Linked DNA regions of Homo sapiens: region 2 is linked to region 1. A link means that fine-mapping ties the variant in region 1 to the expression of a gene that starts in the linked region. Tissue or cell type: whole blood. Region 1 holds a variant in brackets; the other region holds the start of a gene. All regions are shown on one strand. Distances are from middle to middle.

Region 1 (8,106 bases):
GTGTATACCTTAAAAAGCCAACAGAGGAGATAAAATGGAATACTAGACATTGCTCAGTTAATCCAAAAATAAGACAGGAAAAGAATAAGAAAGAAAAAAGAACATATAGAACAAAAGAAAAGAAAAAGAAAAATTGATATGTAATCCATTTTGTAAATGGATGGATTAAAAAAATAAAAAATAAATGGATAGATTCAATTAAATCCAATCATTTCAATAATTACATTAAATGTAAATGGACCCTTCCCTTTAAAAATATTTATTGCCTGTCTACCTTCCTACCTTTCTTTTTTCTTCTTCCTTCTCTAAAAAGCCATTAAATAGGCAAACAGAAGTGGCTCAAGGGCCACATGTAAGTACATAACCAGAGTGGGGCAGATTCAAGAGGCTGCTGGAGAGACGACACAGAGACAACACAGGTAAGGGTAAGCAGAGAAGCCAAAATGGGGCTTGCATGTCAAGGAGGCAGCAATCTGGAGGGGTCAGAAGAATCAACTTTGTCACTGTTAGGATAAGATACAAATATGGGAAGGAAGAAAGCCAGAATGAACCCCATGGTGTTGGACTGGAAGTAGAGTGTATAGGGTTGAACTCATGTTTTTCAACACATGGAGAAGTAGACAGACAGACAAATAGAAAGGTAACGTGTGTATTGATACAGACATATATATATTTGGATATGTATATATATATCCTAATATTTCCCAGCTCAGCCCACTGAAAGGGGTTGTTATATATCCTTACATATTCCCAGCTCAGCCCACTGAAAGGGGCTGGGAACAGCATCATCCCAGTAGCAATGAGCATCCAGAGAGAGCATCCAAACATCTCTCCCACTCAGAGAAGTCAGGGCCCCTTGGATAAATGGAAGATTACAAGGCTGATCCAAGGAAAAAACAAGATGAGCCTGAAACTTTTTTTATACTAGAAGCTATGGAAATGCTCAAGGAATGATGGAAGATATGTCAAAAGGACGAGGGGCCAGTTTGAAGGACCACTCACTGATGCAGAAAAAGATGAAAATTACTATCTTTTTAGAAATGAAAGATATGTTATGTAAATAAAGTTAACATGTAGCATTCTGAAATGCATAAATTAGAAGTTAATACAGGATAGGAATAAATGAGCTAAAATTTCAACTTAAAAATACAGAAAAAGAAAAAATTCATAAAGTAGAAGGAAAGCATTTAAAAAGATAAAATTAGAAATTAATAAAAGGGAGCACAAAACAAAATATTAACATTGCTTAATAAAATATACCAACCTTTAGCTAACATGCTCAAGGGAAAAAAAATACACAAACAAGAATGAACTAGGGACAAGGGTATAGGGCATAGAATGAGATGGTGAAAGTGGAGGTTACAATCCCAGCACTTTGGAGGCCAAGATGAGTGGATCACGTGAGGTCAAGAGTTTGAGACCAGCCTAGGCAACATGGCGAAACCCCGTCTCTACAAAAATACAAAAATTAGCCAGGTGGTATGGCGCGCACCTGTAATCCCAGCTACTCAGGTGGCTGAGGTGCAAGAATCGCTTGAACCCGGGAGGCGAAGGTTGCAGTGAGCTGAGATTGTACCACTGCACTCCAGCCTGGGTGACAGAGTGAGACTCTGTCTCAAAACAAGAACAAAAACAAAAACAAAACAAAACAAGAAATAATCTTAATGTCCTTCAACTAGGGCTATAAAATAATTTATCAGACCTCATGCCAGTCATTAGAAAACAAAAAGGTAGACCTGTACATACTGTTATGGAAAGCAAGTCTCAGAATAACACATAGAATGTAATAGCATTTCTGTTAAATATATACACACACACACGTGTCAGGTCGAACCATATGAAATTGCCATTTTTGTAAATCAAAACTTCTTCAATATTGGCAATTCCGTATGATTCAATCTAACACAGAAACTCACAGGAAGGAAGTCACAGTCTGGAAAGAAGGAAAGGAGTCTGGGAGGCAAATGAAGGGGGCATTTGCTTCTTATTCCATATTTCTGTTTTGCATGAATCTTTTGTGATAAAAAGACATCCATTCGTTATGTATTTTAAAACAAATAGTTGTTTTTAAGACCTGCTGCTTTCCATCCAGCCCCTTGGCTCTGTCCAGAAGAAGACATTCAGCCCCCACCTCTCAGCTTCTCCCATCTTCATCGCTGGCCGTGAAGACAGTGTCTGGGAAGAGAGAAGGACTGCCATCCTCCTGGGGAAATAATTCAAGCTATGGAAGATGCTCTAGTGTGATTCCACGTTGGAAAACCAAGAACAATGGCCAGGCACGGTGGCTCACACTTGCAATCCCAGCACTTTGGGAGGCCGAGGCAGGTGGATCATTTGAGGTCAGAAGTTCGAGACCAGCTTGGCCAACACGGTGAAACCCCGTCTCTACTAAAAATACAAAACTAGCTGGGCGTGGTGGTGTGCACCTGTAGTCCCAGTTACTTAGGAGACTGAGGCAGGAGGATCACTTGAACCCGGGAGGCGGAGGTTGTAGTGAGCCAAGATCACACCACTGCACTCCAGTCTGGGCAACAGGAGTGAAACCCTGTCTCCAGAAAAACAAAACAAAACAAAACAAAGAAAACAAACAAACAAAAAAAACAAGAACACCCTCAGTGCCCAAATGCAGGAAAAGTAACCTGGCCATCATACGCAGCACCACAAAGATGACTTCTGACAAACTTTGGTTCTTGTATACACCCTTTGCATATAAGGTACAAAGGAACAAAACTATGGCTGTATGGAAATAAGCTCATAAAGGAGACTGGGAGAAAATGTCCCTAAATGATACCAGTGGTTGGAGAGAGGGGATGGGATTATGAGTCATTTTCCTTTATTTTTTTGAGACATGGTCTCGCTCTGTCGCCCAGGCTAGAGTGAAGTGGTGCAATCACAGCTCATTGCAGCCTTGACCTCCCAGGCTCCAGCGATCCCCCCGGCCTCCTGCCACCCCTGCCACCCCACCCCCAGTAGCTGGGACCACAAGCACATGCCACTATACTGGGATATTTATAATTATTATTATTTGTGAAGATATGGTCTCTCTGTTGCCAGTCTCAAACTCCTGGGCTCAAGTGATCCTCCCGCCTCCACCTCCCAAAGTGCTGGGATTACAGGTGTGAGCACCAGGCCCATTTTCTTTATTTTTCAAACTTGTTATTACAAGATTTGACTGTTTTTACAATCAACCTAAACAACATGAAACACACTGAAATATAAACTGAAAACTATGGCTTATTAGCCCTGCCCAGCTGGTTTCTATCATGTCTGATGGTGTCTATAAACATCAAGAGGGCGATTGTTCCTTAAAAAAAGCAGGTTCAGCCAGTGGTTGAGAATCCAGCATCTGGAGCCAGACTGGCTTGGTTCAGATCCCAGCTCTGCCAGCCCTGACCAAGTTATTTAACCACTGCAAGATTTGGTTTCCTCGGTTGTGAAGTGGGAATCATATCAGTACCTACTTCAGCGGTACTGTTGTTAATAAAGATTAATTGCTAAGGAACTGGGCCGGGCACACACTCAGTGCCCAACAAATGCTGGCAGCTGTTAGTATCACAATAATCATTTTTATTCAAAGTGCCTCTTTATTGCCCTTAGACACTATTAAAGCCAAATGAGATGATGTCTGGGCAAGAACGAAAGAGCTGGCCAGTCCACACAGCAGCCTGGAGAATGAGTCCTCACGTGCGTGCAACCTCTGTTGGTTCCAAGTATGTCTATTTAAGTGATCACTCAGCAGAGCGGCAAGACAGGTCTGATTCTGCATTTAAGCTTGCTAAGAGGATAAGTAACTCTATGCTGTTTTGCACAAGAAATGCCTTAGAGGCTGGGAATAATGCCACAATCCCATCAGCTCCTCCTGAGCCCATGGGGGCCTTTTGCCCTAACTGCTTCTCCCTGTATGCTGGGCTGTTCCGTTCCCTGGGGTTCTCTTCTGACAGCCGGAGGACCCCTGCCAGGCACTCCACCAACTCCAGCACCAACCCTGCCCTGCTCACCCAGTCTCATTTTCAGGGAACTTGGAAGTCTTTGCAGACCTTTAGGAAACGTCTTTTTACACTTAGGGTGGTGGGATGAGGGCAATCAGAATGCTCATGGTGGTCATTTTACACATGTTAAAATCTTGTATTGACCTAGAACACACATCCTGAAAAATGCACACATCATAAGCCTATAATGTTCATAAATTTTTAAAAACTAAACACACCCATGGAACATGAAACAGAACATTGACAGCACCCCACAGGCCCCTTCTGAAAGGTAACTACTAATTATCCCGACTTCCAACAATAGTAAATAGTTTCATCTGCTTTTTTTATTTTTTTTGAGACAGGGTCTCATGGCTCACTGCAGCCTCAACCTCCTAGGCTTAAGCGATCCTCCCACCTCAGTCTCCTGAGTAGCTGGGACTACAGGCATGTGCCACCACGCCTGGCTAATTTTCGTATTTTTTGTAGAGAAGGGGTTTCACCATTATCGGGGAACCTGCCCCGATAATCACGTAGGTTCTTTTCCATTTTTCCTAAGCATCGGCTGGCTTGAGAAACAAAGGGACAGAGTACAAAAGAGAGAAATTTTAAAGCTGGGTGTCTGGGGGAGACATCCCACGTTGGTAGGATCCGTGATGC[C/T]CCACAAGCCACAAAAACCAGCAAGTTTTTATTAGGGATTTTCAAAAGGGGAGGGAGTGTGCGAATAGGTGTGGGTGACAGACATCAAGTACTTAACAGGATAATAGAATATCACAAGGCAAGTGGAGGCAGGGTGAGATCACAGGACCACAGGACCGAGGTGAAATTAAAATTGCTAATGAAGTTTCGGGCACCATTGTCATTGGTAACATCTTATCAGGAGACAGGGTTTTGGGATCAACCAGTCTGACCAAAATTTATTAGGTGGGAATTTCCTCTTCCTAATAAGCCTGGGAGCACTATGGGAGACTGGAGTTTATTTCATCTCTGCAGCCTCAACCATAAGAGACAGGCTACGCCCAGGGGGGCCAGTTCAGAGACCTACCCGCAGGCGCACATTCTCTTTTTCAGGGATGTTCCATGCTGAGAAAAAGAATTCAGCGATATTTTTCCCATTTGCTTTTGAAGGAAGAGAAACATGGTTCTGTTCTGCCCAGCTCACCAGCAGTCAGAGTTTAAGGTTATCTCTCTTATTCCCTGAACAATTGCTGTTATCCTGTTCTTTTTTCAAGGTGCCCACACTTCACATTGCTCAAACACACATGCTGTACAATTTGTGCAGTTAATGCAATTATTACAGGGTCCTGAGGCGATATATCCTCCTCAGCTGACAGGATCAAGAGATTAAAGTAAAGACAGGCATAGGAAATCACAAGGGTATTGATTGGGGAAGTGATAAGTGTCCATGAAATCTTTACAATTTATGTTTAGAGATTGCAGTAAAGACAGGTGTAAGAAATTATAAAAGTATTAATTTGGGGAACTAATAAATGTCCATGAAATCTTCACAATCCACATTCTTCTGCCATGGCTTCAGCCAGTCCCTCCGTTTGGGGTCCCTGACTTCCCGCAACACACCATGTTGCCCAGTCTGGTCTCGAACTCCTGGACTCAAGCAATCCACCTGCCTCGGCCTCCCAAAATGTGGAGATTACAGGTGTGAGCCACTGTGCCTGGCCTGTAGTGCCATCTGCTTTTGAATTTGATGTACAGAGACCCCTGCCATATGTATGTCCATGTTTGGCCTCTTTTGCTCAGTGTTACATTTGGTGAGATTCACCCATTTCATTGTGGATCACTGAGGCTGGTTCATTTTCATTTGTGTGTAGTATCCTGTTGTACAAATGCACCACAATGCATTTTTTCTGTCTACTATTAATGGGCACTGGGCCACTTCCACTGTGGGGCTATTCAGCATAGTACTGCAATGAATGTTCTCCTGTACATCTTTAGTAAACACATGCAAAAATTCCTGTTGTGCCTTTACTTAGAAATGAGATTGCTGGGTAGGCGTATATTCAGCTTTAGCAGATGCTGTCTAACAGGTTTTCTAAGAGGTTTCCCTAATAGGTATTTTTATAGTATCCTTTTACTCAGTTGATTCAAAGGTATAAAATATATATTACATAGAACTTGGATTGTCCATAGAGTATCATAGGAAGGCCCTCAAGCAAAGCAGCTTCACTATCTTCTCTAATGACAACAGCTATAGCCCAGAGAGACAAATACATCTTAGAAACCTGGACTCTATAGGCGGCCAGTCCAACCTCCTTACAGACCCTTAGACCATTCCAACGCCACCTGTAAGGGGAACTCACTGACATCCTAATGCTGATTATTCTACAGCTCAAGTTGTCAGAAATCCCTTTCTCCTCCTTTTGCCTCCCCCGGCCCTGGGTCTGCCCTCTCCATGCCAGTTGCTATGGTTTGAATATGTGTCCCCTCCAAAACTCATGTTGAAGCTTTATCTCCAACATGACATATTGAAAGATGGGACCTTTAAGGAGATTGGGTCATGAGGGCTTTATGAGTGGATTAATCCATTCATGGGTTAACAAAGTAACAGGTTAATGGATTAACGGGTTATCGTGGGAACGGGACTGGTGGCTTTCTGAGAAGAGGAAGGGAGACCTGAGCCAGCACACTCAGCTCCCTCACCATGTGATGCCCTCTACCTCCTCAGGACTCTGCAGAGAGCCCTACTAGCAAGCAGGCCCTCTTCAGATATGGCCCCTCAACCTTGGACTTCTCAGCCTCCATAACTGTAAGAAATAAATTTCTTTTCCTTATAAATTACCCAGGAACAGGTATTCTGTTATAGGCAACAGAAAATGAACTAAGACATCAGTCTTCCGAGTTTTGACAGTGGTACTACATCCCCCTCTTCCCTGTCCAAGCTGAAAGACCCAGACTGTGTCCCACAGGCAATGGGACCTGGCCAGGCTAGAAGGCCAAGATCCATTCATGTCCCCAGACCTTGCACTGCCTATGTCTTTGCAGTCCAGAGCTCAGGACAGCTCATCTGCAGCTTGGAGCTTAGGGTTTCAGAAAGACCATTCCGAAGTCTTACAGGTCCTGGCCAAAAGGTCAGGCTATTGTGGACACAGCTGAGAAGCGGGAACAACCTGTCTGCTATTCTATGCTTGCCTACAAGTGCCAATTGACACTTTCTCACCCCATCCCTGAGGTCAGGCTCCACCTCCCTCCTGCACAAGTCCCCCTGTAAGAAAACTTTAGTAGATATTGCCCCACTAGCCCTGGCCCCTGCGAGTGAGCTGGCCCTGAGCCCCCACCCCGGGACACATGCTGCCAGTGGCTCACTTACTGACTCGATAGCCCAGGCCTTCTGCGTGAATCCTCTTGGCCATGAATTGTCCTTCAATTAGTGCTCGAACCTCCACATCCCCAGGGAATGCTGCAACCTGTCTCCAGGAAAAGGTGGGCACAGAGTAAGGAACTCTCATTGTCCATTCGTGTGTGTATGTGTGTGTCTGTGTGTGATCTTTTTAAACAACAGCCCAGATTTGAAACTCATAGCTGGGCTCTTTAACCACTATCTTTGCCTGTCACACACACTCACACAAACACACTACTCAAGCACACAAGCTCACAGCCTCACATGCATGTCACTTTGAAGAGAGTCAAGAGACATTACAGAACTTAGTCTCAGGCAGCTGAGAGTTCAAGTTCTGTCTACCATTCAGCTCTGCAATCTTCAATAAGTTACATTAGTCTTGCTATCATTCTTTTTCTTAACAAAACAGAGGTAATAGTGGCGCCTGTTTTTTAGGGTTGTTGCAATGATCAGATTAGACAACAGAGCCTGGAAAATGCAGTACATACTAGATAAGTGAGAGCCACGAGCTTACGCTGAGATCCCACCCCTGTGGCATGTCCTTCAAGCTAGCACTGATGGGCATCAACCCCAGGCTCACTCCTGCTTCTCTGGCACCTGAGACCAATGCTAGAACCTGCCGCCATCCCCCTCATAAACAGCTACACTCTAACCTTACTGACCTTCTTCTAGTTCCCAAGCTGCTCCCTCTGCCTGAAAGTCTATCCTACTCTTTCCATGGTGAGATCCTGAGTACTTTCAGGTCTCAACCTAAAGGCCACCTTCTCAGAGACGCCCAGGCTT
Region 2 (8,106 bases), 220 kb after region 1:
AGATTTGAATAGATATTTCACCAAAGAAGATCCATGAAAGTCTAATAAATAAGGACATGAAAGGATGTTCATCATCATTAGTCATTAGGGCAATGCAAATCAAAACCACAATGAGATACCACTTCATAGTCACTAGGATGGTTACACGCAAAAAGACAACAAATTTAGAGAAACAAGAACTCTTATAATTACTAGTAGGAACATAAAATGGTACAGTTACTTTGAAAATCAGTTTGGCAGTTTCTTAAACAGTTGAATTTGTGATATAACCCAGCAATTCCACTCCTGGGTATACATCCAAGAAAAATGAAACATATTCATGGGGTGACTTGATGTGAATACTCAAAGCAGCCTTGTTCCAAACAGCCAAAAAGCAGAAACAATCCAATGCCCATTAACTGGTATCCAATAAAAAGGAACCATGTACTACATGGCAGATGGATGAACCTCAAAAAGCATTATGGAAAGTAAAAGAAGCCAAACACAAAGGACCACATATTATATGATTACATTTACATAAAATGTCCAGAAAGGACAAATCTATAGAGACAGAAAGTATATTTGTGATTGCCTGGGGCTGGGGGTGGGAACAGGGAGTAACTGCAAATGGACATGAGGCATCTTTCTGGAATGATGGAAATGTTCTAAAATTGGATTGTGGTGATGACTGAACAATTATGTAAATTTACTAAAAGATTATTGAATTGTACATTTTAATCAGGTAAATCTTATGGTACGTAAATTATATCTCAAAATTGTTTTTTTAAATGAAAAAATATTTATGCTAAGTGGAAGAAACCAAACATGAAAGACCACATGTTATATGATCCCATTTATATAAATGTCCAAAAAAGGCAAGTCCATAGAGACAAAAAGTAGATTTGTGGTTGTCTAAGGCTGGAGGTGGAAAAAGGGATTAACTCGTAAGAAAGCACAAGAGATCTCACGGGGATGATGGAAATATTCTAAAACTGGATTATGGTGATAGTTGTACGACACAGGGAATTTACTAAAAACCACTAAATGTTACACTTAAAATGGGTGAATTTTATATTAAATTATACCTCAGTAAAGTTGTTTTAAATCTATGAAAGATGGTCAAATCACATTGGAGTTCCTAACCTTTTAAAAACCATGGACCACTTTGTGAATGTGAGGAACACTAACCCTATCCAGAAGACTGAGAGACTCCCTTTTGCCCACTCACAGACATCCTATGGGTCTGAGGACACCAAATTAACAAATCACGAAATCTCTAGCGCCTTTGCAACTCTGAAATTCTCTGCCACCTTAACAGCAAAGGCTTTGAGAATGACTACAACCATCCTCTTCACCCTAGAAAGATGGATACACTACCAGAAAAAAAAAAAAAAAACTCTTCTTTTAAAATGATGATAGGGAACCTCCTCTTTACTTCTCTGACATCATTTTGGAATCTTCCATTTAATCCTTTCCTTCAATATGAAACTCTGACTGGGGGAACCAGAAGCAATCAGTCCAGACCGGGAACTAGCTGTCTTTAGAACCAACGAATACATGTCAAAGACCCAATATGTAGCAAGGACACAGGCCCATGAAGTGGCTTAAGCAAAGATGTGATGTCTTTATTTAGTCCGAGTTGTTTTGTTTTGTTTTTGTTTTTCCTATACGAACCAATATTGCTTTAAGCCCAGATTGTCTTAAAACAAGAGGCAAGTAAAAACAAAAATTATTTCACGAAGTTCTTTTTAAACCCACAGTGAAATAAACACTGACACCCCCAAGGCAGCTAGGAAGTCTTCAGTTGGTCTTTGTTATAAAACTAATTTTAGGGCAGGATGCTGGCAAAGCAGATAATTCGCCTTCCTCCAATACACAGGTGTCTGCTCATGTCCGTTGGATTGAGCCTGTATAGCTAAACATTTTGATTTCCAAGGTCACTGGGTTATTGTTGTCCAACAAATACTCCCCTCATCCCCAGTCCCCAGCCTCCTCCCAATCCCTAGGCTTCTGTGAGAATTACAATCTATGTGCAAGTTTTGGTCTCTGCCAACTGGTATTCCTGGACCCCCTTCAAATCTTTTCACACACCAGCCCAATTTATCGGATCACGTCAAGGCACTATTTGAGGGCCTCCAGTGATACTTAAAATTCCAAAATCTGTACCAAAGCTGAGAAGATCCCTAAGATCTGGCTCCTCCCTTCCCTCTCTATCCTTGCCAGCCTTCCTTCAGGTCCTAAAACAAATCAAGCTCTTCCCTTACTCAAGGCCACTGCATCTCTATATCCCTCTGTAAGGAAAAATCTTCCCGAGGCTCTTAATCCTCACTTCTCATGCTTCAGGGCTCAACTGAAATGTTATCGCCTCAGAAAAAGAATTTTCCTTGAAATCACCCTAAGTAGATCTCCAGGTTATTCTCTATCAGAACATCTTGTTTATCTCCTTCATGGCACTTGCCAAAGCCTCTTCAAATTTTTTTTTTTTTTTTTTTTTTTTTGAGTCAGAGTCAGGGTTTGTCGCCCAGGCTGGAGTGCAGTGGCGCGATCTCAGCTCACTGCAAGCTCCGCCTCCCGGGTTCAAGGATTCTTCTGCCTCAGCCTCCCGAGTAGCTGGGATTACAGGCGCGCACCACCACACCCAACTAATTTTTGTATTTTTAGTAGAGACGGGGTTTCACCATATTGGCCAGGCTGGTCTCGAACCCCCGACCTCGTGATCCGCCCGCCTCGGCCTCCCAAAGTGGTGGGATTACAGGCGTGAGCCACCACGCCCAGCCCTTCTTACTTCTTTTTGTCTTCTTATTTAATGTCTACCTCCCCGACTGGAAAGTCAGTTGGAAGGAGTCGTAAGTTGGGTCTCGGTTGCTCAGCGCGGTTCCTGCAGCTTCACCTGGAGGATCCCCAGTTCGCCCCAGCACGGATGGAGGAAAAACTTAAAGCTCCCTATCTATCCCACAATCCCAGAAATCGATGGCTGTGCCCACTTCAAGATCCCATTTCTCACACAGCCTCGGAAAGGCCTGTCCCACACCTGCACTTTCTTTCTCTACAAGACACATGGGCCGCTCCTGTCCACACATTTGAGAATCCTGTACACAAATCTCTCCTGAGCCCCCTCAAGCCTCACCCCACCCCACGCCACCTCACAGGCGCGCGCCTCAAAACCCCCTTCCCGTCTCACACGCGCTCCTCGACACAAGCGTCCTACAAGCCCCCAGCCCCACAAGCGCCCCACGAATTCCTATGAGGGCTGCGCTCCCCGAGCTCCCGCGGCTCCCCACGTTCCCGTGTCCCCCGCCTCCCAGCGCCGCGCCTCCCCCCTCCGCAGCGCCTGCTCTCACCGATCACCTCCTGCAGCTCGTAATCGTCCCTGTTGATGGACCAGGGCAGGGCGCTCGAGTCCTCGGACATGACGGCGGCAGCGGCTCGCGGTCCTCCCTCAAACTCGCTGACCTCGCTCGTCTCCTCGCCGCGCGTCTCCCCACCCCCAACAGCCGCCGCCGCCGCCGCCGCGCCCCCACCAATCGTCTCGGAACAGCCACGGGTCGGACGGCGCCGGGGCGCGGGGTCACCGCGCGGCAGAGCAGCGGGGGCTCAGAGCTCCGGCGGACCTCGCCTCCTGCTCCTCCGAGTCCGGCACTGCCCGGCCCAGCCCACGTCCTGTCCTCGGCCTCCGCAGCAGCAGCGACAGAAGCTTTGCCTGGGCCCAGCCCCTCTGTCCCGCCCTCCACCCCAGCCCCACGCACGGGCCAAACTTTCCCCTCTTCCTCCACCTGCCGACACGCAGCGCGCTGACGTCACTGCGCTGGTCACGCCCCACCTCGGGCCCGCCTCCGGCCGCCATCTCCAGTGTGGCTGGATGTAAAGTGAGCAAGCTAGAAACCCGAGAAGGTAGGAGTTCGCGGTGAAAGGGAAGAAGTGCTTAGGTAGAGGTTCATCGAAGGCATCGAAAAGCCGTAGGAGAGCCTCAAGTAGCACAGAGGCAGTAGCCACACTAAGCATGGCGACCAAAGGGCAGCAAAGTAGAAGGGGCAGAGCCACTTCTAGCGCCTGGGGCACGCTGCTGTCTCCGTCGTCGCATTCATTGGTTTGTTTGAGAAGGAATCAGAAAAGCAATGGGTGTGGGTAGACGTCAGTCATAAATTGGTCCCGCCTCCAGGCTCTTAGCGCGCTTCTCCGTGTTAGGGCTGCAGCCCTTCAAGAGCTCCGTTACCGCGCTCGTCTTACCACTTCCTCTGGAGTGACGTCACGGCGTAACCGTCACACCCTCGAGACGTGCGAAAGGCTCTACAGGGTGTGGAGAAACCCTGAGGGAGCGGCTGGGTGGGGTAGCCTTTGGGTGTGGACCACTGCCAACTAGGATAAAAGGCCTTGGGCCACTGGTCGGAGTGAAACTGGAAGTTTGCCTGGTGACATTTTTTTCAAGGCGGACGTTCTCTCTAACGCTTGTCGCGGCGCTGTCTCTCGCGGGTCCACCCTGCACTGGGCGGGTTCTGTCCATTCGCAGCTTTAGATCTGAAGCTCAAATAAGCACCTGCCTTGAGGGACTCGGGAGGTTGTCTTTCTTCCCCCCGGACAGGGCTTGGGGTATTAAACAAGTGAGATCGACCCACGGATTTGGGGGTTGTCTCACGGGCGTTGGCTTTTGTCGCCCCCACTGAACAGTTTTCTCAGTTTGACTACGTACGGCCGTTAGAGAAATTAGCGAGCTGAAGACTGAACACGCTTGGTAAATTGGATTTTAAAAAATAATGAGCATCCAACAGGGATAGGGCTAGGTGCGAAACTGTTCTAGGTTGGACACCTTTCAGTCCAACGGCAGTCTTTAAGGAAGAGACCTTAGGCCGGGTGCGGTGGCTCACGCCTGTAATCCCAACACTTTGGGAGGCGGAGGCGGGCGGACCACCTGAGGTCAGGAGTTCGAGACCATCCTGACCAACATGGTGAAACTCCCTCTCTACTAAAATACAGAAAAATCGCTGGGCGTGGTGGCTGGCGCCTGTAATCCCAGCTACTAGGGAGGCTGAAGCAGGAGGCGAAGGTTGCAGTGACCCGAGAGCATGCCACTGCACTCCAGTCTGGGCAACAGACGGAGACACCGTCTCAGAAAAAGGAAGAGACCTTCACCTAGGCCCAGCTGAGACGGAGCAGGGACCCCTTTTAGGGCCTGCAGGCCCTCAACCATGGAAATAAAGGAAAATCTTGAGTTACTTCAAGAGAAATTCCCGGCACTTAGCTAGCCTTGAAAAGTTAATGAACCCCTTGATAAGCAAGAGGGCAGTAATAACTTTAAACATTAGCCAAAGAAACTAAAATAACTGGATGTTTGGTTCCCTATAAAAACTAAAGATAACATCAACACATGTCCCTGAGTTGTTTTTTAGAAACCCAGACCCCCACCAAATGGATCTGCTGGCACATAGACCTCAGAGAATGGGGAGCTAAGGACTGAACTCTGACTGGTGGTTTGTTTTTTCTCTAAGTTTCTTCTTCCTGAAGAAGGTCATGCCCACAAGCTGTAGCTAACATTCTTTTCTACTGATCCGAAATTTTTAGACAAAGCTTCACCTCTTTTATCAATCGCAAATCAGAAAATCTTTGAATCCACCTATGACCTGTGGGCTCCTGCTTGGAGATGTCCCCCCTTTTTAGGTCAAACCAATGTATAACCTCTGTGTATTGATTTATGACTTTACCTGTAACTTCTTCTTTTCCGAAATTACCCCTATCTTTAAGAATGCTTGGCTGGGCGCGGTGGCTCACGCCAGGAAGTTTAGGTCCCCAGTATGTATTTCATAAGTTTATGAAATATGTATTATATATAATGTATATTTATATATATATTAAGCTTGAGCTACACTAATTCTCCCCTCTTGCTAGGCGCCCTGCCTTTCTACTGCAGCAAAACCTCCGTGTGGCAATCTAATGTCACTGCACTGGGCAAGTAGACCTTAGTTTGGTTCTAAAACACCGCCAAGCACTGGAAGCTCTGCGCTGAGCTCTGCTGTGGGAGGTCCAACTGACCATGAAACCAGTCAACTAGAAGCTACTAGCGGGTTTCCACCTAGTTGGTTGGATTGGAGAACGTTTCATGAAGAAGGTAGCATTTGTACCAGATCTTGCAAAGTTAACATGATTTCAACAGGTGCACATTTAGAGGATAGAATAGTCCAGGCTCAGCAAAGGTGCCGCAGTTCCAGAAAGCATAGCACAGGCCTTGCTGTAAGTGGTTTTCAGCCATTACTACTGACAGTTTCTTTACCATATGTTCTGCCTTTTTCTTTTTGCAGGGAGGAGAGGGATGGGGATCAAATGTATCAGAAAGGAGCTAAATCTGATGGTAAGAATTAGCCTCAAGGTTTGTACCAATAGAAAGGTCTACAAACCAGAAATTCTTGGCTTGGGGTTGTTGAGTTGTATGACCCATGGACATACTTCAGTTTTGTTTTTGTTTTGTTTTGTTTTATTTTGTTTTGTTTTTTTCTCCCTGGCACGGTGACTCAAACCTGCAATCCCAGCATTTTGGGAGGCCCAGGCAGGTGGATCACCTGAGGTCAGGAGTTCGAGACCAGCCTGGCCAACAGGGTAAAATCCCATCTCTACTAAAAATACAAAAATTAGCCACGCGTGGTGGCTGGCGCCTGTAATCCCAGCTACTCAGGAGGTTGAGGCAGGAGAATCGCTTGAACCCAGGAGGCAGAGGTTGTAGTGAGCCAAGATCATGCCACTGCACTCCAGCCTTAGCGACAGAGAGTGAGACTCCATCTCAAAAAAGAAAAAAAGAAATTATATATGTATTATATATGAAATATAGACAATATGTATGAAGTATATATACTATATATAAATATATATGAAATATGAAATATATAACATATATGAAACAACATGAAATCTATAATATATATGAAATATATAACATGAAATCTATAATATATATGAAATCTATAATATATATGAAATCTATAATATATGAAATATATAATATATATGAAATATATAATATATGAAATCTATAATATATGAAATATATAATATATATGAAATCTATAATATATGAAATATATAATATATATGAAATCTATAATATATGAAATATATAATATATATGAAATCTATAATATATGAAATATACATAATATATGAAATATATTATGTATATGAAATATACATAATATATGAAATATGTATATGAAATATACATAATATATGAAATATGTATATGAAATTACATAATATATGAAATATGTATATGAAATATACATAATATATGAAATATGTATATGAAATATACATAATATATGAAATATGTATATGAAATATACATAATATATGAAATATGTATATGAAATATACATAATATATGACATATGTATATGAAATATACATAATATATGACATATGTATATGAAATATACATAATATATGACATATGTATATGAAATATACATAATATATGACATATGTATATGAAATATACATAATATATGACATATGTATATGAAATATACATAATATATGACATATGTATATGAAATATACATAATATATGACATATGTATATGAAATATACATAATATATGACATATGTATATGAAATATACATAATATATGACATGTATATGAAATATACATAATATATGACATATGTATATGAAATATACATAATATATGACATATGTATATGAAATATACATAATATATGACATGTATATGAAATATACATAATATATGAACTATATTATGTAAATGAAATATACATAATATATGAACTATATTATGTAAATGAAATATACATAATATATGAACTATATTATGTAAATGAAATATACATAATATATGAACTATATTATGTAAATGAAATATGTATATGAAATATGCATTGTATATGAAATATGTATATGAAATATGCATTGTATATGAAATATGTATATGAAATATGCATTGTATATGAAATATGTATATGAAATATGCATAGTATATGAAATATGTATATGAAATATACATGAAATATACATGAAATATACATGAAATATATACATGAAATATATTATACATGAAATATACATGAAATATAACGCATGAAATACGTAATGCATATGAAATATAGGTAACGCATGAAATACG

Evidence for each region. PIP is the estimated chance that this variant, and not a neighbour inherited with it, causes the effect.
Region 2: it holds the start of OXSR1, and the variant in region 1 is fine-mapped to the expression of OXSR1 in whole blood (INTERVAL, PIP 0.96).

The regions. Positions count from the first base shown.
Region 1 is chr3:38,378,530-38,386,635 of GRCh38, reverse strand. XYLB (xylulokinase) reads right to left here. Exons shown (of 19, transcript NM_005108.4): 15 at 7,294-7,390. Among named protein-coding and RNA genes, the nearest start is that of XYLB, 36 kb to the right of the region's middle. The variant C/T (reference allele first, on the strand shown) is at 4,629.
Region 2 is chr3:38,161,161-38,169,266 of GRCh38, reverse strand. OXSR1 (oxidative stress responsive kinase 1) reads right to left here and starts at 3,730. Exons shown (of 18, transcript NM_005109.3): 1 at 3,321-3,730. The coding sequence starts at 3,390. LOC101928234 (a long non-coding RNA gene) reads left to right here and starts at 3,791. Exons shown (of 5, transcript XR_940733.2): 1 at 3,791-3,870; 2 at 6,270-6,319. RefSeq lists silencers at 3,236-3,285, 3,336-3,725 and enhancers at 2,957-3,572, 3,966-4,065, 4,336-4,465, 4,616-4,695, 3,856-5,055.